3 linked regions of the Homo sapiens genome follow. The protein of the gene in region 1 purifies or fractionates together with the protein of each later gene. This does not show direct contact. Each region holds a gene or a part of one and is shown on either strand. Other genes may lie near its edges. The genes, in order: SNTG2, CTNNAL1 and UTRN.

Evidence for each region.
Region 2: the proteins of SNTG2 (region 1) and CTNNAL1 purify together in Homo sapiens (affinity purification with mass spectrometry; 2 studies listed by BioGRID and IntAct, with this or other methods). This does not show direct contact.
Region 3: the proteins of SNTG2 (region 1) and UTRN purify together in Homo sapiens (affinity purification with mass spectrometry; 2 studies listed by BioGRID and IntAct, with this or other methods). This does not show direct contact.

What each region holds. Positions count from the first base shown.
Region 1 is NC_000002.12:1,359,237-1,367,838, reverse strand, and holds the end of SNTG2 (gamma-2-syntrophin), read right to left. Parts: intron 497-8,602; coding exon 365-496; 3' UTR 226-364; downstream 1-225. UniProt on the Homo sapiens protein: Adapter protein that binds to and probably organizes the subcellular localization of a variety of proteins. May link various receptors to the actin cytoskeleton and the dystrophin glycoprotein complex.
Region 2 is NC_000009.12:108,974,333-108,982,934, reverse strand, and holds part of CTNNAL1 (alpha-catulin), read left to right. Parts: intron 1-3,453; coding exon 3,454-3,654; intron 3,655-5,886; coding exon 5,887-5,973; intron 5,974-8,602. UniProt on the Homo sapiens protein: May modulate the Rho pathway signaling by providing a scaffold for the Lbc Rho guanine nucleotide exchange factor (ARHGEF1).
Region 3 is NC_000006.12:144,287,502-144,296,103, reverse strand, and holds part of UTRN (utrophin), read right to left. Parts: exon of another isoform or gene 8,150-8,602; intron 4,368-8,149; 5' UTR 4,276-4,367; coding exon 4,197-4,275; intron 1-4,196.

The sequences.
Region 1 (8,602 bases):
TTATGAAAATAAATCTGGGTTTTGCCAACGTGGGAAGTGGCATGTGCAATGCCCACATGGTTCTCATGCTGCTGGGATGCGGGCTGGGGCGTGAACTGCATCAGGTGGACTGGAGTCTGAGCCACAGACTTGTGTGGGGGACGCTGGGGCTCCTCGTTGGGGGGAGACTCATGGGAAGAGGGGACCAGGCATCCCCCATGTCAGATTTAACAAGGAGGACCCGTCTTTGGAAACTAGTGACATGTTTTATTGGTATCACAACTATAGGCTCATCATAAAACAACACAAAGTTGCAATATTCTGCAGGAAAGAATCATTTCTTACGAAAATAATTTAATTTTTCAGCACTCAACAGAAACAACCTTTAGCTGCTGTACATGTATTTTCTGGCAAGACTCTGACTGTCCATGAAGCCGGGGTCCACGGAGGCCACCTTGGCTGCTATGAAGGAGTGGATGCAGTGCAGGACAGCCCTCAGGTCCTGGAACTCGAGTTCCTGGAGGAGAAAATCAGATCAAGTGTTTATTATAATTGTTGGAAGAACACGTTACAAAAATATTTAACAAAGTTTGGACCTTGTGAACTCCAAGAAAGTCCCTCCAAAAAAATAATAATAGACAGGAAATATGTATGGTTTAAAGTAAAAGGCAGAGTAACATGATCCAAATCATGATCCAAATTGGTTATAAACATGAATATACTGGGTATTTTTTATTACAACGCTGAGAATGTAACTTACTTGTTTTCTTGCACCTAACGGGGGCTAATGCTCACTTCCTTTATTTTGCATCTTCAGTGATGGGTCTTGATTAAGTCAGACCCCGTAATCTGGGCCAGGACTCAGTCTTCCCCACCTGCCCAGCACCTGTGGTGATTTTGTGATGTGGATCCCGTCGCAGCAGACCCCTGTGCTGTGTGAGTTGGCAGAACTAGCCATTGTGTCTCAGGCCGCCGTGCCTTTTGTATGGGTGCGTGTGGGCTTCATGCCAAGGCCGCCCTTGGGAGGAACAGTGCCTGCTGTGTGGGTGCATGTGGGCTTCATGCCAAGGCCACGCTTGGGAGGAACAGCGCCTGCTGTGTGGGTGCGTGTGGGCTTCATGCCAAGGCCACGCTTGGGAGGAACAGCGCCTGCTGTGTGGCGCAGAATAGGCAGTGTGCACAGCACGGCGGGAAGCGAGGAGGGGCCTTGTTCACCCACCCTGTCCCCATGGCTACGGGAGAGCAGGAAAGGGTGCCCCAGGGAGAGTTTCCTAGAGAGACGGTTATACCCCTACCCCCTCCCAATAAAAAAACTGAAACAAACTCCTGGATCCTTACCTCCGCATGTTACAGACACTAAATGTCCTGTAAAAGCAAAAATGACCCACAAAAGGTTCATCTTCTCTCCACAAACTGCCCCACATAAAGTCCCTGTGTCAAATCAACAGAAAAGTCCACAGTGAACCCCAAAGCTGACACAGAAGTTAAAGAAACTGTTTTTAGAAGTTATTCAGTTACTGGGGAAAAATCATCTTCCTGTTTTTGATGGTAAAATACGAATCTTGCCGTCCTGCCACCCCCATTCTATTGGTAGAAAAGAAGGTCTAAGTGCATTCTTCTAATGTTGTCTTTCTTCTTTGTTTGCATAACAAAATTCAATAAAATGAAGAAAATAAAATTTATTTTGAGGTGACTGCTAATTGATTGACATCCTATTTTCTAAATCTCACCAAAATTCTAGCATATTCTAAACTGCTGAGATGACACCAGAAAGAAAGATAAATCATTTTCAAGAAGAAGAGCAACGCTAAGGCCTGTCAGTTCCACAGACATGCTCCTTTAAGCTCTCGAAAGGCAGGATCTTGGTCATTTTCATTCCATGGCAGAATGAGGGGGTGGAGAATGGGGCCCCAGGCAGGATTGGAGGTCACACATCACCGGGTAAAGCCCTCCCTCCCCAATAACATCCATCTCAGCTTTTCGGAGCTGCTTTTCTTTATAACTCAAAGACGTGACATCTCAAAAATGACTTCAAACTTCCCTGACAGCATGAAGTCCCCTCGGCCTCTCCCTGGTCCTCTCTGCATGCCTTTCTTTTAGAAACTGCTTCTCTCTTGCAATAGGTACAGGACCCAGCTGGACCAGCCAGAGCCCAGTGGCAGCTTGGTACAGATGACAGGGAGAGGGAGGCCAAGATGCCTACATTGGTGTGACCAGCTGTGAGAAGTGAATACCTGAAGCTTGTTCTAATACCACTAATGCCAAGTGGAGAGCCAGCGAGCCAGCCTGCCGGAAGAGGACTTCAACACAGAGGAACACCCCATGCAGGGATACACAAAGAACACTGGGGGACATTGGGTACCAACATGCTGGGAGCTGCCCCCAACCTCCTAGTGACTGCAACCAAAGGCTTCATCTTTCCTTTATTCCAATTTGAATTAAGTTCCTTCCTATGCATGTGAATGACTCTTAACATTGACAGCTACAACACTAATTATTTTGATCATTTCAAATTGTGATGAGCAAAATGTTCAAGATGTTGAGGTGTATTCTCCTGCCAAAGCTTCATAGTCTTTAGGTAGTTTCATAAAGCGTCATTACACTTGGTAACCAGCATCCCTCACTCTGGTCATGAGTGGAACCCAGGGCCTGCCCAGCCCTTGTGTTAAACTTTAATTCAAGCTGGATTCGCCAATCATACCCAAAGCGTGAGACTGTACTCAAAATCTTTTATTCATTTTGACTTATCCCTGTTAGAGGAAAAAAAAAAAACCAAGTAGCTTTCTAGAAGAAACACAAGGTTCTTGCAAACTTAGCACATATTGTAATTCAATGTATGTATGTGTTTCCAAATAGCAATTACTGAGCTTTAAAGGGACTTTTGGAGAAAAAGAGCCATAATGACCATATCATTCATGCTTCAGGGTTTTGGGTTAATTTTATTTTTTTTGAGACGGAATCTCACTCTGTCGCCCAGGCTGGAGTGCAGTGGCACAACCTCCACTCACTGCAAGCTCCGCCTCCTGGGTTCACGCCATTCTCCTGCCTCAGCCTCCTGAGTAGCTGGGACTATAGGTGCCTGTGACCACACCCAGCTAATTTTTTTTTTTTTTTTTTTTTTTGGTATTTTTAGTAGAGATGGTGTTTCACCATGTTAGCCAGGATGGTCTCAACCTCCTGACCTCGTGATCCGCCCATCTCGGCCTCCCAAGTAGCTGGGACTACAGGCGCCCACCACCATGCCTGGCTAATTTTTTTTTGTATTTTTAGTGGAGACAGGGTTTCATGTGTTAGCCAGGATGGTCTCGATTTCCTGACCTCGTGATCTGCCAGCACCGGCCTCCCAAAGTGCTGGGATTACAGGCGTGAGCCACCGCGCCCGGCCAGGGTTTTGGTTTTATACATAGAAACTGAAAATTGCTTTACAAGTTCCCAAGATGTATCCAATAATAGCACAATGCACAGAAATAAGAAGCCAAACAGCTACCAGTAATAATGCACATATTCAAAACAACATCAATAGTTTTTGGTACCATAAGTTGAAGTTACACTGCATAATCTTTGAAAGTACTAGCAATGGCTGGGTATGGTGGATCACGCCTGTAATCCCAGCACTTTGGGAGGCCGAGGTAGATGGATCACCTGAAGTTAGGAGTTTGACACCAGCCTGGCCAACATGGTGAAATGCTGTCCCTACCAAAAAAAAAAAAAAATACTAAAAATTAACTGGGCATGGTGGCAGGTGCCTGTAATCACAGCTACTTGGGAGGCTGAGGCACAAGAATCACTTGAACCCGGGAGGCGGAAGTTGCAGTGAGCCGAGATTGTGCCATTGCACTCCAGCCTGGGCAACAAGAGTGAAACTCTGTCTCAAAAAAAAAGAAAATAAAAGAAATTACTAGCTAGCAGTGAAATCGGTCACACCACTAAATTCCACACTAAAACTCAATGAGTAGTACTGAAAGCCAGGAATGAAATTAAAGCTTATGAAACAATACTCAATCCATTATGTCATGATCCAGATACTGAATAAACAAGCATCCTGTGGGCATTTCACTGAACATCTTCAATTCAGCCAAAAGCTGAGTCATGATATCTCTGGTCTGGTTAATTTTCTAACCAAGTATTACCAGCAAGGCTATCTTGAATTATGAATTTTTAACTAGAGCTGATTGAAATCACATTTTGACATTTTGTTTGAACAAAATACTTGTGTTGAGTTCTAAGCTGGGGACACCCTGTATGGATCCCTCGCTGCACTCCTCACCTGTGTTCACATGTCGGTCATGGGCTGATGTGTTTCCACCTGCAGAGGAAAGGGCACCTGCTGGCTCTCTGTGCAGGAAACAGTGTGGAATGAACAGTCCAATATGTTGGGTTAGGGAGTGTCAGCCTAATACAATGACAGAGAGAGGCTCTCCCAAAGTTTATTTGGGACTATGTAGGCAATTGCAAGCTGGGACATATGTGCTATAAGAGATTATAGGGATATCCAAAGAGGCTGGGATTCAGGAAAGCTTAAAGGCAAAGTGAGGAGGTTACAGAAGTTGTTTTGAAACCGTTATCCTTGGCTACAAGGATCAATAGCAAGGGGAGCTTGTGTCCTCATAGAAGACTTGTCTTTGCACAAGGTTGCAGTGGTCTTTGTGCAGCTTGTGGTGTTGCCAGGGTCTTTTGTGGTACTTCTTGTTATCAGGTAAATATTCATGGTTCCTCTTTCATGGGGGGGGTCCATTTTGTGAGGGTTTCACAGGAGTCATTCCATCTCAGCGCCGGTCACTTTCATGGAAGTTCTATGGAAATGCTCAGCATCGGTGACTTTCATGGAAGTTCTACTGAAATGCTCAGCGTTGGTGACTTCCATGGAAATTCTACTGAAATGCTCAGTGTCAGTCATTTTCGTGGAAGTTCTACTGAAATGCTCAGCATCGGTGACCTTCGTGGAAGTTCTACTGAAATGCTCAGCGTTGGTGACTTTCATGGAAGTTCTACTGAAATGCTCAGCATTGGTAACTTCCATGGAAGTTCTACTGAAATGCTCAGCATCGGTGACTTTCACGGAAGTTCTATTGAAATGCTCAGCGTCGGTGACCTTCGTGGAAGTTCTATTGAAATGCTCAGCGTCGGTGACTTTCACGGAAGTTCTACTGAAATGCTCAGCGTCGGTGACCTTCACGGAAGTTCTACTGAAATGCTCAGCGTTGGTGACTTTCATGGAAGTTCTACTGAAATGCTCAGTGTCGGTGACCTTCATGGAAGCTCTACTGAAATGCTCAGTGTCGGTGACCTTCATGGAAGTTCTATTGAAATGCTCAGCATTGGTGACTTTCACGGAAGTTCTACTGAAATGCTCAGCGTCGGTGACCTTCGTGGAAGTTCTACTGAAATGCTCAGCATCGGTGACCTTCATGGAAGTTCTACTGAAATGCTCAGCGTTAGTGACCTTTGTGGAAGTTCTACTGAAATGCTCAGCGTTGGTGACCTTCACAGAAGTTCTATTGAAATGCTCAGCGTCGGTGACTTTCACGGAAGTTCTACTGAAATGCTCAGTGTCGGTGACCTTCATGGAAGTTCTATTGAAATGCTTAGCGTCGGTGACTTTCACGGAAGTTCTACTGAAACACTCAGTGTTGGTGACCTTCGTGGAAGTTCTACTGAAATGCTCAGCATCGGTGTATCTCATGGAAGTTCTACTGAAATGCTCAGGGTCGGTGACCTTCGTGGAAGTTCTACTGAAATGCTCAGCATCAGTGACTTTCATGGAAGTTCTACTGAAATGCTCAGCCTCAGTGACTCTCATGGAAGTTCTACTGAAATGCTCAGCATCAATGACTTTCATGGAAGTTCTACTGAAATGCTCAGCATCAGTGACTTTCATGGAAGTTCTACTGAAATGCTCAGCGTTGGTGACCTTCATGGAAGTTCTACTGAAATGCTCAGCGTTGGTGACCTTCATGGAAGTTCTACTGAAATGCTCAGCGTTGGTGACTTTCATGGAAGTTCTACTGAAATGCTCAGCATCCGTGACTTTCATGGAAGTTCTACTGAAATGCTCAGCATCGGTGACCTTCATGGAAGTTCTACTGAAATGCTCAGCATCGGTGACCTTCATGGAAGTTCTACTGAAATGCTCAGCATCGGTGACCTTCACAGAAGTTCTACTGAAATGCTCAGCGTCGGTGACTTTCATGGAAGTTCTACTGAAATGCTCAGCATCGGTGACCTTCGTGGAAGTTCTACTGAAATGCTCAGCGTCGGTGACTTTCATGGAAGTTTTACTGAAATGTGATGGTATCAACACAGCAGCATTTCCCAAAATGTGTTTGATATTAAAAAGTTATATTTTTTAAACACTCTTTGTTTGCATAGATTTGGAGAAAAGTAGATTGAAGAAGGCGGGATACTTTTGCTATTGTGGAACTTCTCAGCCACCTCACTGTGTTAATTGCACTGTCTGTCTCCAATAATGATTTGCCATGCTGTGGTTTTCAAAATTCTGTGAGTTTTTTTTTTTAAATGGGTCAACTTGATGACCATTTATTAAATTCCATGAGAATTTCGTGCTACACACTCAATGGGACAAATCATTGTAATGTAAATTTTCTTATTGTTGGTGGAGAATGATGTAATCATAATGTCACAGGCTGTAACAAATAAAAGATGTTTACATGTTTATTTAAAGCTTCACGTTGGCCCCCACAGATGGGACAATGGAATCTGAATCCAGTGGCTGAAGCACAGAAGGCAAAGCTAGAAAAAGCACTGAGGCTTGGACCAAAGGCCCCAAGGACGCAGTTTACTGCTCAGGGCTGTGTCTGAGCTGACTGAGTTGATGGATGCTAGTGGAATGGAAGAGACAGCGCTGGGGACTGCATCAGCTTTGAATATTCCATAAGGTCAGAGCCTGTGGGTGGGATCTCCAAAAGAACTCTCTTAAGTAAGACAAAAAACCACTGGGACACGCAGGTGACTGGAATCGTTATGCAGAATCAGGCTCCAATGGTAGGCCAAGCAGACACTGCTCTCTTATTTAGAGACTCCATCTCTACAAATATTGAAAGAAAAATCACTCATCCCCTTCCTGAGTGAAGGGTTTGCTCATCTGTGTATGATGCTGGATGTAGGGGGGTGAAATCAGACACCGTATGTTTGCTGCTTCTGTCTGAGTGAGAAGGAAAGAAAATCCCCTAGGGACAGACTTTTTTTTTGTTTGTTTGTGTTTTTAAGAAAAGGAAATTAAAAACACTAGAGTAGCCTCTTTTAGTCACACAAATATAAGGGAAATAGAAAAGGCAAGGAGCTTCCCCTCACTTGTTGTGGCAGGTGCCAGTGCACAAAGAGTCCAATAACCTTCTGGAAATAAAAATATCTTGATCCTTTTGAACTTCCACCCTATACCTTCCTTCTAAGCTGTGCTGCTGGAAGGAACACACCCCAGAGAGAGCTCTCCTGAACAGGCTGGGCTGGTGATCCAGGCTTCATACAAGATCCTCCACTCTGAGGGCAGAGAGGGAGGCATGCTTCCAAAGCTGCGGTGGCTGGAGCTTTCTGGCACAGGTGAGCTCAGAGCACAAGGGCAAAGCCTCCAGATGCTGGGAAAGCCAAGAAAACAGACTGTCCCCCAGAGGCTGCAGGAGAAAGCAGCCAACACCTTGATTTTAGCCCTAAGAGACAAGTTCTTAGAGAACTGTAAGAGGATAAATGTGTGTCTCTAATCTACTATATTTGTGTTAATTTGTTAAGCATCGATAGAAAATGAATACAGATAACTTCTTTCAATCATTTAATGTACTTTTTTTTTTCCTATGGGAAAAATGGGATAGAATTTGTTCAGTGCCCTTAAATGTAAAGAAATGAAGATAAATAACCATTTTTGGTTGAATAAATTGAGCTTTAGTTTCTTTGTTTGCTTGTTTTTGGTAATATTGTTAAATGGAAAGAAGATATGGACAAAGTAAAATGTTTCTCAATATTACTACAGAAAGGCAGCATTCTAATGAAAGAGAAAAAACATGCAAAGAAATAAAATAAAGATTAGTTTATGGAAGCACATAACCAAAAATGGCAGTGGGTTTATTGGTGGACTAGAACCTAAATAGAAATTCGCAATTTAAGGATATTGATGTTGTGTAAAAGCAGTCATCTTTCCCAGCATGTAAAAAGCCATCATATGTGCTGATAAATAATATTATTTTTGAGTCTCAGCTTCTCTATCCACAGAAATTAGAGTGGTGAAATAGACAACAACAAAAACATTGAGACCTAACTATATGTTGTGTACAAGAGACTCACTTTAGATTTCAAGACACACATAGGCCAAAAGTGAAGAGATGGAATAAAATATCTCATGCAAACAAAAGGGCAGGGTGGCTGTACTTAGACAAAATAGAAATTGTTACAAGAGACAAAGAAAAATATTTTATAATGAAAACAGAATCAATCCACCAGGAAGATAGAACAACTGTAAATAAATATGCACCCAACATCAGAACACCTAAATAAAGGTTGAGCATCCCTAATCAAAAAATCTGAAATCTTGAAATGATTCAAGATCTAAATCTTTTTGAGCACTGATATGACACCTCAAGTAGAAAACTCACACCTGACACCTTTGATTTCTGAT
Region 2 (8,602 bases), on another chromosome or scaffold:
GGCTAATTTTTATATTTTTGGTAGAGACGGGGTTTCACCATGTTGGCCAGGCTGGTCTCAAACTCCTGACTTCAGGTGATCTACCCGCCTGGGCCTCCCAAAGTGCTGGGATCACAGGCATGAGCCACTGCACTCAGTCTTTTCTTTCCATTTTAAAGGAGCATCATTATGTATAGTATCCATATTTTTGTGTAATGTTTTAGAACAGTGCTTCACAAAAGCAAATGTATCTATTTAAAGCAATGCCACTCTGTACAAACTTGTTGCTCAGTAATATTTACATTAAAGGTGTATTTACAAAGAACACTGGTCTTTGGTTATAGTAGCTACTCTGGCTCTGTTTAGCTGTATGGTTTAGCTGTAGCCTCCTGTTCAAAAGAATGTTCCCTTCCTGTTTTTTGAGCAGTGCCATATCTTTTTGAGCAGTACCATCCATAGGATGATGGTGAGCAGCAAATCATTTCTGCTAGAATTCCTGCTTTTCTCTGTGTTAGAGGGTTGGTACTTTGAGACTATAGTAATAGTATTAGTAATAATTAAAATTTAAAAATCAACAGTAATACACACTAACAGTTATTGAGTCCTTATTCTGTGCCAGCCCTTTTCTGAGTGCTTTAAATATATGAACTTATATAATCCTCAAAGAACTATTGCTATTATTTCCATTACACTGTTGAGGAGCTTGAGAAACAGAAAGGATATTAACTTGCTGGCTACTAAGTACCAGAGTTGGGATTTGAAACTAGGCAGTGTGACTCCAGGAAGTCTGACTTCTCATCAGAAGTCATAGACATGGTGAAGATGCTTTCTGGGTAAGAGCAGTGTCTGAGTTGGGAGGGCCCTAAGAAGTCATCTAGTACAATGCCCTCCTTTAACAGATCAGAAAACTAAGGCCCTGAGAAGTTATCCAAATGCTAAAGGTTCCCACCTCTCTAACAGACAGGGCTATGATGAGAATGGCATTCTTTCCATTTTACTGCACTTTGATTTATTTTATTTATTTATTTTTGAGATGGAGTCTCACTCTTGTTTCTCGGGCTGGAGTGTGGTGGCACGATCTTGGCTCACTGCAACCTCCACCTCCTGGGTTCAAGCAATTGTCCTGCCTCAGCCTCCTGAGTAGCTTGGATTACAGGCACCCACCACCACAGCCGGCTAATTTTTGTACTTTTAATAGAGATGGGGTTTTGCCATGTTGGCCAGGCTGGTCTCGAACTCCGGACCTCAGGTGATCCGCCCACCTTGGCCTCCCAAAGTGCTGGGATTACAGGCGTGAACCACCACGCCTGGCCCTGGACTTTGATTTCTAATTGTGTGAAGGTCTAAGTAGGAACATGGGGTGAAAAGACAGTAATGGAAAGAATATCTCTTTTTGCTCTTAATAAATATTTTATTTAATCCCTACCTGCCCTTTAGGTGGATATAATTATATACTGTTTTTTTTTTTTTTGTTTTTTGTCTTTTTTTTTTGAGGAGGAGAGCTAGTAAGTGGTAGAACCCTTCTTTAGGCCCAGGATTCTCTAATCCCAAAGTCCATGACCTTTCACTTTACACCTCTGGGTTTGTTTATATGATGCCAGTCCTACCACTGAGTCTTCCTGAGGGGAAAGAAACTGTACAGACCAAACCTTCTCTTAGAAATTTTATTGCTGAAAGAGATCTTAGAGATTATTTTTCTAATCTTCCCTTTTTATAAATGCTGAAGGAGGAGATGTGTTGTCAAAGGATAATTAGGGAAACAAGTAAGTCAAGTGAGAGACATCTTTCACCACCTGCTGCTGCATTTCTAGTGCAGGTGAAGGAGGGGCAGTGCTCTGCCTGTGGCTGCTGCCGACAGCTCTGGCTGCTGCCCTCTCGCCATCAGGCATGCTGGAGGCAGAGCTGTTATAAATAGGCTCAGTCTCACTGTCCATGATTATCTCTTTGGCATCTTGCTTTTTTTCTGATGGAGAGTATAATCTATGGAGGGAAACTGGGTACTTTGCTGTATTTGGTACCATGAATATATGGACAAATGTTATGAAACCATATCAGTAAATAGCCTCTTTAAAAAAACCCCACAAAACTCCACTAAGTTGCTGTCTAAAAACATGTATATTTTCTCTCTAAAGGGAAAATAAAAAACCTTAACATAAATGGTATGAGACCAATATAACTGATTTTTATGTTTTAATTCTGTTTAAATTCTCAAATTTAATTCTCTTAAATTAATAAAATAAATTTAATTCTCTGAGAAGATCCCCATTGTAAATTCCATACCTTACTATTATCTGTATTCTTTCCTAGCTTAAATACAAGTTTCTGTCTACCTAGGATGGAGTGATCACCTGACACAACTTGGGCCAAGAGCAGGAGGGGAAGCAAGGACTCTCCTATGGCATCTTGACTTTCCCAAACTTTGATATTTTCATGGATGATGTTAAAATGGGTCACACATAAGGATTAATTAAAATAACATTTGTGAAAGGACTTTGAAGTGTTAAACAAATGTAAGGTATCCTTATTATCACATTCATTGTGACCATAATCATGATCATTACCGCTTGTTGCCTCTTGGCCCAAGTTGTCTGTGTGACATATTTCATGGACTGTAGTGTTTTACAGGGTTGAAATGGCATGATGCATCGTAGAAAGCTGAGAGAGAAAGACTGCACACATGAGCATGTGTTCATCACATAGTCAAGGAACTCCAAACAGGATGGCTGAAGTGAAAGGTTGTTAGGGGGTTCAGGGGGTGAGATAGACTGTTAGAGAAGTATATAAAGACAGGCCATAGAGGATTTTGTGCTATACTACATAGACGTTTGGGCTTGATTCTCTATAGATGGCGAGGAACTATTAGAGGGAGGTGGCAGTATCAGATGGTTTACATTTTAGATTATACAGACCCTCTGGTAGAGGATGTTTGGGTCAGTAAGGTGCTGTTGGGGACTTTAAACAAAATGTAGGGAGACCAGTTAGGTGACTAGGAGAGTCTTTGCTGAATTAACAAAGGAAAAATGGATGTCTTCCCCAGTGCTTCTCACACCCCACATCTTCCACACCATCCTTCCCCCTGGGCTCAGCACATTTCATATTTGGGTGTAACTTATCTTCCAGGACTTTGCCTAGGCATTTTCTCAGATGCAAATCTTTTACCTGGAGGCTGGTTCATTTTTCCTGCCAGTTGCTAGAGGATGATGCTCTTTCTGCCTTAGTATTCACTGATCTCATAGCAATGTCATTGTATTAATTACTCTAGGAATGGTGCTTTGCATGGATATTGAAGGCTTTTGAGCAATGTATCCTTCTGGGTTAGTGGCGAATATAGATATCATTGGTGGCTGTATTTCCCCTCAGCTTGGGAAAAGGAAATGCTAGTGTTTTCCTGGGCACTGTTAGAAATTACAGCCCATTTTGGTCAGGTGGGAATATTGACTCACATGGATGGATAGATGTCCTTTTTGTTCTCAGATGAATATTGAAGCTCTTCGGGAGAATCTTTATTTTCAGTCCAAAGAGAACCTTTCTGTGACATTGGAAGTCATCTTGGAGCGTATGGAGGACTTTACTGATTCTGCCTACACCAGCCATGAGCACAGAGAACGCATCTTGGAACTGTCAACTCAGGCGAGAATGGAACTGCAGCAGTTAATTTCTGTGTGGATTCAAGCTGTAAGAACTTTTTTTAAAATCAAAGTAAATCTTATATAATGGCTTTCCCATAAAGTTTTGCAAGATATGGAAGTTACATAATCACCAGGAGTATGAATTTGTTCCAGAATGGGACAGGATATCTCATCCCTTCTTTCCCTCCTAGTTGGCCAAAATATCCTTCCCATCTAGCACTTACAATACTTGACATTTATTTCCAGGCCTGTTGACTCTCATTCTAGCCAGTCTCAATTATATGCCTCTGTCACTATCACTAGTTCACACTGTTGTCCCTACTCTTCCACCAAACTCACCTCTGGAAAATTCCTCCCCAAAATACTTCTTCAGAGTGAAGAACAGAGGAGTAGACCCCCTCCTAGAGGTTCTTGGGACCTGAGCCTGACTGCTGGAGCCATTCACATGTACACAATTCTTACCTCTGAGGACAGCTGATTTACAGAGACAATGATTTAGAAAACTTATTGGGGTGTAGATTCAATGAAAACAAGGGTAGATCCAGCTGGCAAGTAAAAGCTTTTCACCCTTGCACAAATTCCTGGTCTAAAATTGGTGGGTGGCCACTCTGTGAGCCTTAAATGGGCTGTTGGTGTGCTTCAAACAGAGGAGCTTATTTGGGCAAGAATGGCCAAGACTGACAGAAGTGGGACAGACAGGAAGTGTGTGTACACAATCTCTTATAGCAGGTGGATTGCAAAGTGGAGAGACAGAGAGCCCTGGGACATGTCTCTAGCATTATTTATTTCTTAGGCCCAGGCTCTGTCAGAAAAGTATTTAACATGGCTTACAATATACAGCAGTGATAGTACAAATCTGGAAGTCATGAACAAAGCTTTGGCAGTAAAGATGATGAAGGAGGGTGGATATGGCTGAGACTGAAGAAAGAAGGAGCAGTTGATTTCCTTGTAAGTAGATTAATTTATGAATGAAAGTAGATATGAATCACAGATTTCTCTGATGTTTTCTTGGCATCACAGTAGTGCACATGTTCTTATTAACAGGGAATCTTGCCCTAGAGTATAGTCGTGTGAGAGACTTGAGCAATGTTTTGTGTTTAGTTTGAATTATCTGTGTGATACACAATCTGAAGTGTAGATTGCTTCAGTGTTCAGTTTTAAGTCCAACACTCACTATAAAGAGTTGCTTGTGATGAAATACTCTGTTGGGAATGTGATTCTATCAATACTCAAATTTGCAATTAGCAAATGTCACAAATTTAGCAAATTTACCCGTGCATATTTCACAAGCACTCAGATCTCTGATCCTGCATTCTAGGTGTATTTTTCATTCATTCATTTTTTTCAGCAGTTGTTACTGGTGCCTTTTATATGCCAAGCACCATAAATCTAAAGATGAATAAGCTAAAATCTTTGTCTGCAAGAATTTTACAATATAGAAATTTGCGGGAAGGGGTGAGACAAGTACAAATAGCTTTGTAAGTATCCTAAGAGAAAGTGTAGACTATGCATTGAGAGGGTTTGAAGGAGGACAAATTTATATTTAGGGAGGGGGCTCAAGAAGTCTTCATGAAGTAGTGATATTTAATTTTTATTTATCATGCAAAGAATTGAATATCTACGACCTACCATTTGCTATGCCAGGTACTGTGGATTTAGTGGTGTGCAAAATAGATGTGAACCCAGCTTTCGTGGCCTAGTGGGGAAGATAGACTTTAAACAAACAAAAAATAAAAAATTCCAGATGGTTTGGACTGAAAAAATAAATATGTAATTGCAAACTGGGACGATTATGGAGCAAAAAGATTACAGTGAGTAAGAAGAGGGTCTGATTTAGATTGAGTGATCTGAGAAAGCCTTTCTGAGAAAAAGACATTTATGTAAGATCTTAAAGATGAGTAGGATTTTAATTTTTAACTAGGTTAGGAGTGAAAGCATGGACATTCTAGGCAGAAAATAAAAGAGATTAATTTTAGACTTGAGTTTATTAAAGAAAATTAGATTTTAAAAGTTCACCTTTCAATATAATCCATAGGTTCACAGAAAAATAAATAAATAAAAAAACAGAAGTTCATCTATTTGTAGTTAGCATTGAAAAATATAACTAAACTGAAATTTTATTTTCCACTGTAACTTAAACAGGTAAATTTTGAAAATCTACTTTTATAGTTCACAGAATAGTATTAAAATTTATTACAATTTACAGTCCAAACAAAATTGTAATTAACAGATTAAAGAGATGCGGTAACATTACATGTATACTTTTTAAAATTTTTAGCAAAGCAAGAAAACAAAAAGCATCGCTGAAGAACTGGAACTCAGTATTTTGAAAATCAGTCACAGTCTTAATGAACTTAAGAAAGAAGTAAGTATAGTTTGAAATTTAGCCTCTTCTAATTCTTTGTGATTTTCATGTTGTATGGGTGTATGAAATACATTAGTATTATTAGTATGTCTCTGTGCCTAGAAAATGGTTTTAAAAGTTTTCCTTTGAGGCCAGGCATGGTGGCTCATGCCCGTAATTCCAGCACTGTGGGGAGGCCAAGGTGGGAGGATCACTTGAGCCTAGGAGTTTGAGATTAGCCTGGGCAACATGGCAAAACCCCATCTCTACAAAAAACACAAAAGATTAGCCAGGTGTGGTGGTTAGCACCTGTAGTCCCAGCTACTCGGGAGGCTGAAGTGGGAGAATCACCTGATCCCCAGGGCTCAAGGCTGCAGTGAGCCATGATCGCGCTACTGCACTTCAGCCTGGGTGCCAGAGTGAGACTGTGTCTCAAAAAAAGAAAAAAAAAAAAGTTTTCCTTTGACATAGTTATTTTGAAGCCATGATTTTATTAATGCCATCATTCTCAAAGCTTGCACATGAATTTTCATCACTTTATTCATAATAATAAAAAACTAATAACCTAGAATTCCATCAACAGAGGAATTGATAAATGAATTTTGGAATAATTCTACCAAATACTATTCAGTAATAAAAGAGAACAGTATTGATACATGCAACAATATGGATGAATCACTAAGACATACTAAGCAAAAGAAGCCAGGCACAAATGATTATATGTATAAAATTCCATTTAGAAAAAAACAATTCTAGAAAAGGCAAAACTAATTTATAATGACATAAATCAGATCAGTGGCTATCTTGGGTCAGAGGTTGGGGTATATTTACTGCAAAAGGGCATGGGAGGACTTTTTGGCATGATGGAAATGTTCAAAATTAGTTGTTGTGATTACATGGCTGTATATGTTCATCAAAACTCACTGAACAGTATCTTTAAAATGGGTACATTTTGTTTTATATCAATTCTATCTCACTGAAATAAATTTTAAAAGATATTCCTTTGGTTGAGAGGGTTTCCCTGTTCCCTGAATAAAAAATTGGTCATCTCATGACTTAGTTGGCCACTCTCAGGTTATTGAAAGTCCTATGGTCACTTTAAGTCAGGTGTTCACAAACTACAACTGGACCGTTTTCGTCAGTAGAGTGTATGGGGACACAATGCTGCCCATCTGTGGACCTACTGTCTACTGTTTTCTCACTACAACAGCAGAGTTGGATAGTCACAATAGGGCCTAAAATATTTACTCTCTGGCCCTTCACAGAAAAAGTTTACCAATTCCTGCTTTAAGTCACAAAACATAATCTCAGTTGAAAATTAGAATGTTAATCATTATTTAAATCTTCATTTAGTTGTAGAGCTTCTCCCCTGTTCCCTGTTTTCCCAGCTCCAACTAGATAGAGCTGGGAAGATGTGGTCTCTTCTCCCTTTTTCACTTTCCTCACCCTCCGTTACGTAGCTGTTGTTGATTTTTGTCAGGTTGTGGCATAGAGAGAGAAGAGAGAAAGTTGAGAGGCAGAAGGTTTTTAGTGACCAGCACCCTTATCAAATGGCTTTGGGCTTGGTAGACATTTACAGTGGACTCTCACTCTCATGGATACCTTAGTGGTTCTTCAGAGGCTTTCCTGTTGCCCCCCCTACCCCCACCCCTGCCCCTCAACCCCTTTATCCTGTTGCTCCCTGCGCTTTGAGGCATGCCTGGAGGAGGGAGTCACAGTGGGCACCCAGCAGCTCTCCAGACAGACCCTCCTCACACAGACCTCTCATTTCCCTTAGCTGTGCTTTCTTAATTCTTTTATTTTTATTTATTTATTTTTTTGAGATAGAGTCTCACTCTGTTGCCCAAGCTGGAGTGCAGTGGCGTGATCTTGGCTCACTGCCACCTCTACCTCAGGGGTTCAAGCGATTCTCATGCCTCAGCCTCCCGAGTAGCTGGGATTACAGATGCACGCCACCACGCCCAGCTAATTTTTGTATTTTTAGTAGAGATGGGGTTTCACCATGTTGGCCAGGCTGGTCTCAAACTCCTGACCTCAAACGATCCACCTGCCCTGGCCTCCCAAAGTGAGCCACTGCACCCAGGCTTAATTCCTTTATATTCTTGAAGACGGTCAAGGGCTCAAGACAATGAAATTAGAATTTTAAAAAAATTTTCTTATTTTTGAGATGGGGTCTCACTTTCTTGCCCAGACAATGGTGTGAACATGGCTCACTGCAGCCTTGACCTTCTGGTCTCAAGTGATCCTCCTGCCTCATCCTCCCATGTAGCTGGGCCACAGGTGCATGCCACCATGTCTGGCTAATTTTTTGTAGAGATAGGGTCTCACTATTATAAGCTCAGGCTGGTCTTGAACTCCTGGGCTCAAGCAGTGTTTCTGCCTTGGCCTCCGAAAGGGCTGGGATTACAGGTGTAAGCCATCATGCCTGGCTGAAATTGGTTTTTGGATGTTTCTTATATAAATTTTATACGTGGTGATCTGTTTCACATCTTACTTGGCACTGATATGTCTATTGAAATCTCCATTTAAACATCCTGTTAAACATAGAAAGACATGGTTTTCTATGCTTTATAAAAAGCCTGCTGCCCTTGACACAAGGAAAAAAACAAAACAAAACAAAAAAGAAAGAAAAAAGCCTACCCATTTCATT
Region 3 (8,602 bases), on another chromosome or scaffold:
TGAACACACAGTACCAGAAAAGGTACCAGAGAGTGCTAAGAACAACACAGGGAACGTAAATACAGAGATGCAGTCAAGAGTGACTGGGAGAGCTACTTTCTAAAGTCAGCAAGGAAGATCTCTGAAGAGGTGACATTAGGCCTACATCTAAATGACAAGAAGGAACCAGCCAGGCAAAGATGGAAGAAGAGAGATGTGCAAAGGCCCTGAGGAAGACACACTGGGCCTTTGGAGAAATAGAAAGAAGTCCAGTGCCACAAATCACTTCAGTATGGCTCACATTTATCATCTGCAAAATGGCGGTTGTGAGGATTAAACTGTTAGCACCACATCTGCACACAGAATGTGTTCAATTAGTGTAAGTTGCTAGAATCGTCATCATCAGCAGCAGCAGTGAGATGCCATCATTGGAGGTGTGCAAACAGAGACTGGGTGAGCACATCACAGGAATGGCTGGGTTATAGGGCGTTTAAGGTTCCCTCAACAATTAGATCCTAAGATTAGACAAGAAGAGAAAATGCAAAGGAAGAAATGATAAAATTGTTACACACAGGCTTCCAGCCCAAGGTCGCTTGAAGAACACATTGAATTATCCAAAAATGTGAAGCTTGCCCAACTATTTCATTCATCAAACAGTTCTTTCCCAGCTGAGAGTCTATAATCCCAAACTGTCAAGAACTCCACATGGAGCCAGCTGACACACTGTCCTTAGCCCTGAGGTCTACTCTTTCTACAGGGCTCTGGGATAAAACCACAACAACACTGACAGCAACAGAAAAGGATGACTTATTCTGTGTTACTAGCTTTAATGTATGTTAATTATTGAATGAAATAGCAGTGAGGATATTCTTCGATTGTATATGCATCCCAAACCATTTTATTATTTCATGTTTAAAATGTTCCAAGCAGTACTTTCTGCATCACACACTCTACTGGCAATAAATTTCACTTTTTAAAAATTCTTAGTCTTGGCCTATTGTTTCAAAATATTTACTAACTTGTTGAACTTTCTAAAGCCTACTAATTAAGGCTGTTAATAATACAGTACTTGATGATGAACTTGGCATATGTGCTTTTAAGTTAGAGAAAGACAGGTCTACTTTTACCCAACACCAAATCCTTGGTCATTATAGATCAAATTCTTTCCAGTTCCTTTCTAACACTCACCCAAACCCAAGGCAAGTATACTACAACCATAAATAAATACATGGCTTTGTATTTATGAAACTACTTCATTACGTACCCTTGACAACTTCCTATTTCTGTTTAGATGGTAGAAATGGCTTTAAAATTATAAAATTTAAAAAATTATAATATTCAAAATGGCATGAAACAAAGTAATACTAAGTGAGGACAATAAAAATAATCACAATAACTTAACATAAAATGCATAGACATTTTTATTATGCCAATTTAATTATGCCAGCCTTTTGGATTGTCCAAACTCGAGGATTTGGAGAGCAGAAACCACACTCTCCGTCCCCCCACTTTCATCCAATTTCCCCCCAAAAAAGAAACCTGGAAGAGCAGATGAGGATCAAAATTTTCCTAAAGGAAAGTATTCCCTTTTAAAAAATGGAAAAGCAACCAATTTGGCATACAGCATGTAGACAGAGGATCTTTAAAATACATATATGATATGTAGACAATTCCTATGACTTAATCTAAACTAAAAATCTCTTAAAATATGTAAGTTTTAGAGTACCATGAAATATTACCTCTGTATAGTAAGCATTTGCCTTAAAAGAATCAAAAAAAGTCCCTTAGAGGAAGCCAGATTGGGACTAATGGGTCCATTCAAATCCAAATTTATCTACTGGCTTTTGCAACATAATTCAGCCAAAAGAATGTGATTCATATCTGAGCTATGTAACAACTAAATTTTCAGTGTGTTTTGAAGTAGATGCCACCACAAAAAAAGTAATAGTCATAACCTTGGCATCTAAACACTCTAAGCAATTTGATAATCTTTAAAAATATAAGAACTCAGTAATGTGGGTTCATTGAAGAACTTTAGAAAATATAAATCAGCAAAAAAAAAAGTAATAATCTCAAATGCCAAGATGACCACTATTAACATTTATTGTATACTTCACTAAATTTTTAAAAAACATTTTTCATATAAATGACTTCATATAATACATACTTGTTTACTTACTATATCAAGAACACATTTCTATATTCATACACACACACACACACACACACATCACACACATCTGTATCACTTTTTATGAATGCTTAATCTTCTACTTTATGGATATACCCTAATTTAGTTACCTCTACTGAGATCATGTATGATCTGTTCAGATGTGCTAGAGTAAAGAAACAGAATAATAGGTTTAAACAACTATTTCCTAAAGCTATTTGACCATAACATCCTTTTGTGAATTACACATTAACAATCCTAGAACTTTTGATCTTTTCGAAATACTTTGGGAAATAATGATCTAACCAATTCCTAATATTAGATTTTCATGGTGTTTACAATGTTTTCTATTATAAATGATACTGTGATCAATTTCTTGAGTGTACCTTTTTATGTATTGCCTAGGGAAAAACTCTAGAAACAGAATTACTCAGTTAATTGATATGCATGTGTTAAAAACATGTTATCATTTTTGCCAAATTGTTCTCCAGCAATATTTTAGGTTCATCAGCCTTTTTAAAAGATAATTTTAAATTAAAATAGTTTGGGAGTTTATATGTTCATTATATATACACGGTATTTCTGAAATTAGATAATTACTCTTTTATGGACACGGCTAAAGTACAAGTTATAAATATCAAAGGTCTTACTAGAATGAAGGCTGACTCAGAAAACTATTTAGGAATATACCTCCTCACAATTTATAGAAAATGACTAGTATGGAGACATTAAATCGTCTCTCTTCCATTTTCCTCTGTTATATTTACATATGTCTGAATATGTATTCCGTACTCCTAAGATGATATTAATAATCCCTTACATTTTTGTAGTACCTTATACCACTAAAACATTTAAAACAAAAAGAATTTTACAGGAAGAGAACATCCTCAAAGCATATTTTAAAACAAGATATTAAGCTATACCTTCAAAAGACCCGTCAAGCTACACAATAGTTGCTACATATTTACAGCCAAATCTGTAATAACTAAAATCTTTATCAATCAACCAACACCGGTATCATGGAGGAAAATGTGTATTTTAAGACAGTTAATTTAGATCTTATTTTCACTGTGTATTTCTACAGTTTCACATAATAAGAAACAAGCTCCTAACAGAACATAAAGATGGTTCACACAGCAAAAACAGGCTTTGGGTTCCTTTTTTGTCTTTAAAGTGACACTGGATGTAATTTTATACCTCAAAGTAACTTTTCAAAGTTACTTAAGTATAGTGTTCACACTCAGGGTGGAGTTCTGTGTAATTTTCAAGGCTGAGAAGTGTTCTGCCTGTTCAAAAATATCTCCCCTTTGAGTTTGTCTCAGAATCATATTTGAAGCTTTTTAAAAATACAGAAATTTTTATTCAATGGGTCTGGAATGGAGCCAATGCATCTGCGTTTTTTAAAACTCCCCAGTTGATTCATCTGTACAGCCAGAGTCAAAAAGCACTCGGTTATATAAAAAGATTGGAGGAGGGGGTGGTATCCTGAGGACCCCAATTTAACTGTTCGTGTGAAAACCATGAATCTGTCTGAGTCTGGTTTATTAGATTACCTAGGTGAAAATTTTACCTTGAGAAGGCTCATAAGATATTTCAAGGTAGGACACCTGTTGGCCTATCAATGGCTATGAACAGGGATGGGGGTGAGGATATATGGTAATGAAATCAAACTGTGAAAGATCTTTCCTGCCAGAAACTGTGGCACTTCCTACATTAAGCATATAATCCCTTCAATTTCCAGAAAATAGAAAGAGAAATGTTCGGTCGTATTTTATTTTAATGGAGTAGTCTTCCAAATGAACAACCTTTAGCTACAAGCAGCAGTTTCACTAAGCACAAAATTGGGTTGAGAAAGGATAGGACACTCAGAGATATTATACCTTTTACATATACCTTTTACAAAATTATAGTCATTTGTCAGAATTCAGTTTCTTAAAAGAACTTCACCTCCAAGAAGTTCTTGCAAGAACAATGCAAATCAATCCAAGAAACATAGGTTTTCTAAATACATAAAAATCCATAGCTTTCTTGAGCTTCCTTTACCTACCAGATCTGGACTTAATGATATCACTGAATTCGTTCTGCCCATTGTCAGGACTGGCTTCATGTTCTCCATACTTGGCCATCTTGCCAGAGTTTCAAGATAATCCAAAAACTTTACCAAGTCCTCTTTCTAAGGCTTTCAACTTCCTACGATGGTTCAGCTTGACATCAATACCTAAAAGGAAAAGGGAAAGTACTGACTTGAAAAAATGTATTTATATATTTTATATAGTTATTCGTAGTAACTATTCATTCACCAAATATTTATTGAGTGCCTACCACGTGTAAAGCACCAAGCCAGGCAATGGTGTTATGACTATGAACAAGAGACATAGCCTCTGCCATTACGGCGCTTATGCACACTAAGCAATTAATTACATAATGAATTATTTCATTACAATACTGACAGACTACAAATCATACAAAGGAGAAGCACAGAGTATTAAGAGCACACAGCAGAGGAGTCTGACCTGCCCTGGGCAATTAGAGAAGGCTTTCTTGAAGAGACATTTGAGCCAAGCCTTTAAAGATGACAAGAATTTAATTAGCCAAAAAGGGAAACAGAAAGAGAAAAGGTAAGAGCTTCCTATGTGAAGTGGCAGAAAGAATCATGGAGCAGTCAAAGAATGGAGCACAAGCCAGTGTTTCTGGAAAGAAGACAGCCAAGAGACAAGTGTACCTGTTGAACCAGGTGAAGAAGCTGGGCAGGACCAGGGATAGGACCATGGAGAACAGGTCAAGGGTTTGTGTCTTTATCTGAAGAGCAATGGGGAGCCAGTAGATGGTTCGAAGGAGGGAACCAACATGGTCAAATTGGCCTTTTTAAAAGATCGTCAAGGGACGGGCACGGTGGCTCATGCCTGTAATCCCAGCACTTTGGGAGGCCGAGGCAGGTGGATCACGAGGTCAGGAGTTCGAGACCAGCCTGGCCAGCACAGTGAAACCCTGTCTCTACTAAAAATACAAAAAAAAAAAAAAAATTAGCCAGGCATGGTGGTGTGCACCTGTAATCCCAGCTACTCAGGAGGCTAATGCAGGAGAATTGCTTGAACCTGGGAGGTGGAAGTTGCAGTGAGCTGAGATCACGCCACTGCACTCCACCCTGGGCAACGAGAGTGAGACTCCATCTCAAAAAAAAAAAAAAAAAAAAAAAAAAAAAGACGATTGTGGCTTGTAGGTAGACCACAGTAATATGTGGGGAACCAGTGAAGACTATGGCAGAATATAGCAAAATGCAAATTAAGGAACCTAGCTCATGGGTATATGAATGCTGAATGAAAATTTCTTGCAACTCTTCTGTATGTCTGAGAATTTTTTCATAGTAATATGTTGGGGAAAAATTCCTAATCTTAACCAAGTGATCAAAATTCACATAACCAATCATGGGGCATCATGCAATTGAATGGAAAATCACCACATCATCTACACAATATCCTTGCCAAGATGTTGAACGTGAATCTTCTCATGAGCAGACAAATCTAGACTGTGGCTAGTTTTCAAAAGAAATGGCCTGGTTTCTTCAAAACTGTCAGCGTCTTGAAAACCAAAATTACCTGGGAGAGGGGGAGCTTTGTGAATTAAAGGAGACTAAATAGACATGACAATGAAATGTAATCTTTGATTGAATTCAGAATTTTAAAATAAAACATTTGAGGATCATTTGAAAAATCTGAATTTGGACTATGTATTAGACAATATTATTGTATCAATGTTAAATTTCTTTAACATTAATTATGGTATTGTTGCAGGAGAATGTCTTTGATTGTAAGAGACATGTGGTGAAATATTTAGCAATGAAGTGTGATGGTATCTTCAACTTAAGTTCAAACAGAATAGCATATATCTGTCTATACTGATATAGGTATATTTAGGTTGATATATGTATGTAGATGTATATATGCATACACACAGACAGACAGAAAAATGCAGTAAGTATTGTAAAATAAGTGGGAAAACTAGGCCGGGCAAGGTGGCTCACGCCTGTAATCCCAGCACTTTGGGAAGCCAAGGCAGGTGCATCACCTGAGTTCAGGAGTTCGAGACCAGCCTGGCCAACATGGTGAAACCCCATCTCTACTTAAAAAAAAATACAAAAATTAGCTGGGTGTGGTGGCAGGTGCCTGTAATCCCAGCTACTTGGGAGGCTGAGGCAGGAGAATCACTTGAATCCAGGAGGCGGTGGTTACAGTGAGCCGAAATTGTGCTATTACTCTCCAGCCTGGGTGACAAGGGCAAAATTCCATCTCAAAAAAAATAAAGTAAGTGGGAAAACTTGTTAAAGGGCATCTGGGTCTAGGCGAGGTGGCTCACACCTGTAATCCCAGTACTTTGGGAAGCTTAAGCGAGAGGATTACTTGAGCCCAGAAGTTTGAGATCAGCCTAGGCAACATGGTGAGACCTTGTCTCTACTCCATGTAAATAAAAATTTTAAATAATAAAATAAAATAAAATAAAAAGGACATCTGGGTGTTTATTGTGCTATTCTTTCTATTGTAATATTATATGCAGGAAACAAGTGTGGTCTAAACAAGAGTAGATAGAAAGAAATGGGTGAATATGTGGGATATTTAGATATCAAAGAAAGTCAATAGGATTTGGGAATTGATTGGATATGAGAGATTCATATCCAATGTGCAAAATGTGCAAAATGACTCCCCAATTTTGGCTTAGGCAATTAGGTGAAGTGTGAGTCATTGAGCTGGGCAACACTGAGGATAGCAGGCTGGGAGAAAGGAATCATCAATGTGATTTGGATTTGCAGAGCTTGAAATGCCTCTGAGTTATATAAGCGGAGATGACAAAAAGAGAGTTGGGCCCAGCATGGTGGCTCATGCCTGTAATCCCAGCTCTTTGGGAGGCTGAGGCAGGCAGATCACTTGAGGTCCAGAGTTCAAGACCAACCTGGCTAACACTTGAGGTCAAGAGTTTGAGACCAGCCTGGCCAACATGGCGAAACCCTGTCTCTACTAAAAATATAAAAATTAGCCAGGCATGGTGGCAAACACCTGTAATCCCAGCTACTCAGGAGGCTGAGGCAGGGGAATTGATTGAACTCAGGAGGTAAAGGTTGCAGTGGGCCAAGATCGCTGCCACTGCACTCCAGCCTTGACGACCGAGTGGGTGAGACTCCATCTCAAAAAAAAAAAAAAAAAAAAGAGAGAGAGAGAGAGTTGGATATAAAGGATTGGATCATCAATCTGACAGATTTTATGAGAGTCTAAAAAACTTTTTTCATTTTTTATAGGCTCTACTACTGCTAAAAATTTATGGATTATTATATGATTACATTCTTTCATTCAAGTACATAACTATAAAGGATTTGCTAAATTCTTAAGTGTATTTTATTATATTCAAGAATCAAAAACTTTGTTCAGAAGAATGTCTATAAAAGTTTATCATGGAAAATTAAGTTTGCCCAGGGAAAAATTCTCTTTCCTGGAAAGAACTACAGTGTATCACTTTGGAGCAGTAAGTCTAATGCTTTTCTTCACTATTGGTCTTAGCCAAGATCTCCACTTCTATGCTACCCAAAGCCTTTATTCACCCATAAAAGAGAAAAGTCAACTGTTTACACACTACTTTATTCCATTTGCCCATTATCAGTAACACTTCTTCACTATAATGTTTCACTTGCCACTCTCCTCAAGGTGATTTTTCAAATTTTTCTCTTCTTGATAATGAAAATCCCTTACAGGTTGCAAAGATACAGCAGAAAAGGTGATCAGAGTACAGAGGAAAATGGGGAGAAAGAAGAATAACAGAAGGCTATTTAAATAGTGATAGCCACTGAGGTTACTTGCCATTAATGGCCAGAGGAATTTGAGTACACTTAAGGCAAAGGATGACTCCTTCTAATTGCCAAATGCAGAATCTTTGGTTCTCAGGAGACAGAATCAAAGTTTCACCACGAACAATGCATCCCAGTGTGACCCTCCGTCTTCCACACCTATAAAATGGAGGGAACACCATCTTCACAGAAGGCTAGGTGAGAAACTGAGAATCAATGAATGAGATGTTGCTTTAGAAGCTTCAAGCCCTATACAAATGCAATTTATTGTTACCTCTGCCCTAGATTTCCCTTCCCTCAAATGATATTCTGTAAAAGCCAGATGTTCTTACTGAAACCAATCCAGTCAAGTCGATATTCACTAACTCTCCCTTCAGAACGCTTCCGGCTGTCATATGGACCACCAAGCAAGAGTGTATGAAATAAACATAAGGTGTTTAAAAAATAAACATAAGGTGACAGCCTTAAAGACAAAACTAATGTTTCAATTTTTTAAGATTTTAGGAATTATACAATGAATATATGTATATAATTTTTATTTTGTACTATATTTTATGTATATAGCACATATATATCCAACAGTGTGCATTATGATGGAAATGCTGTGTAATGCAAACACTATT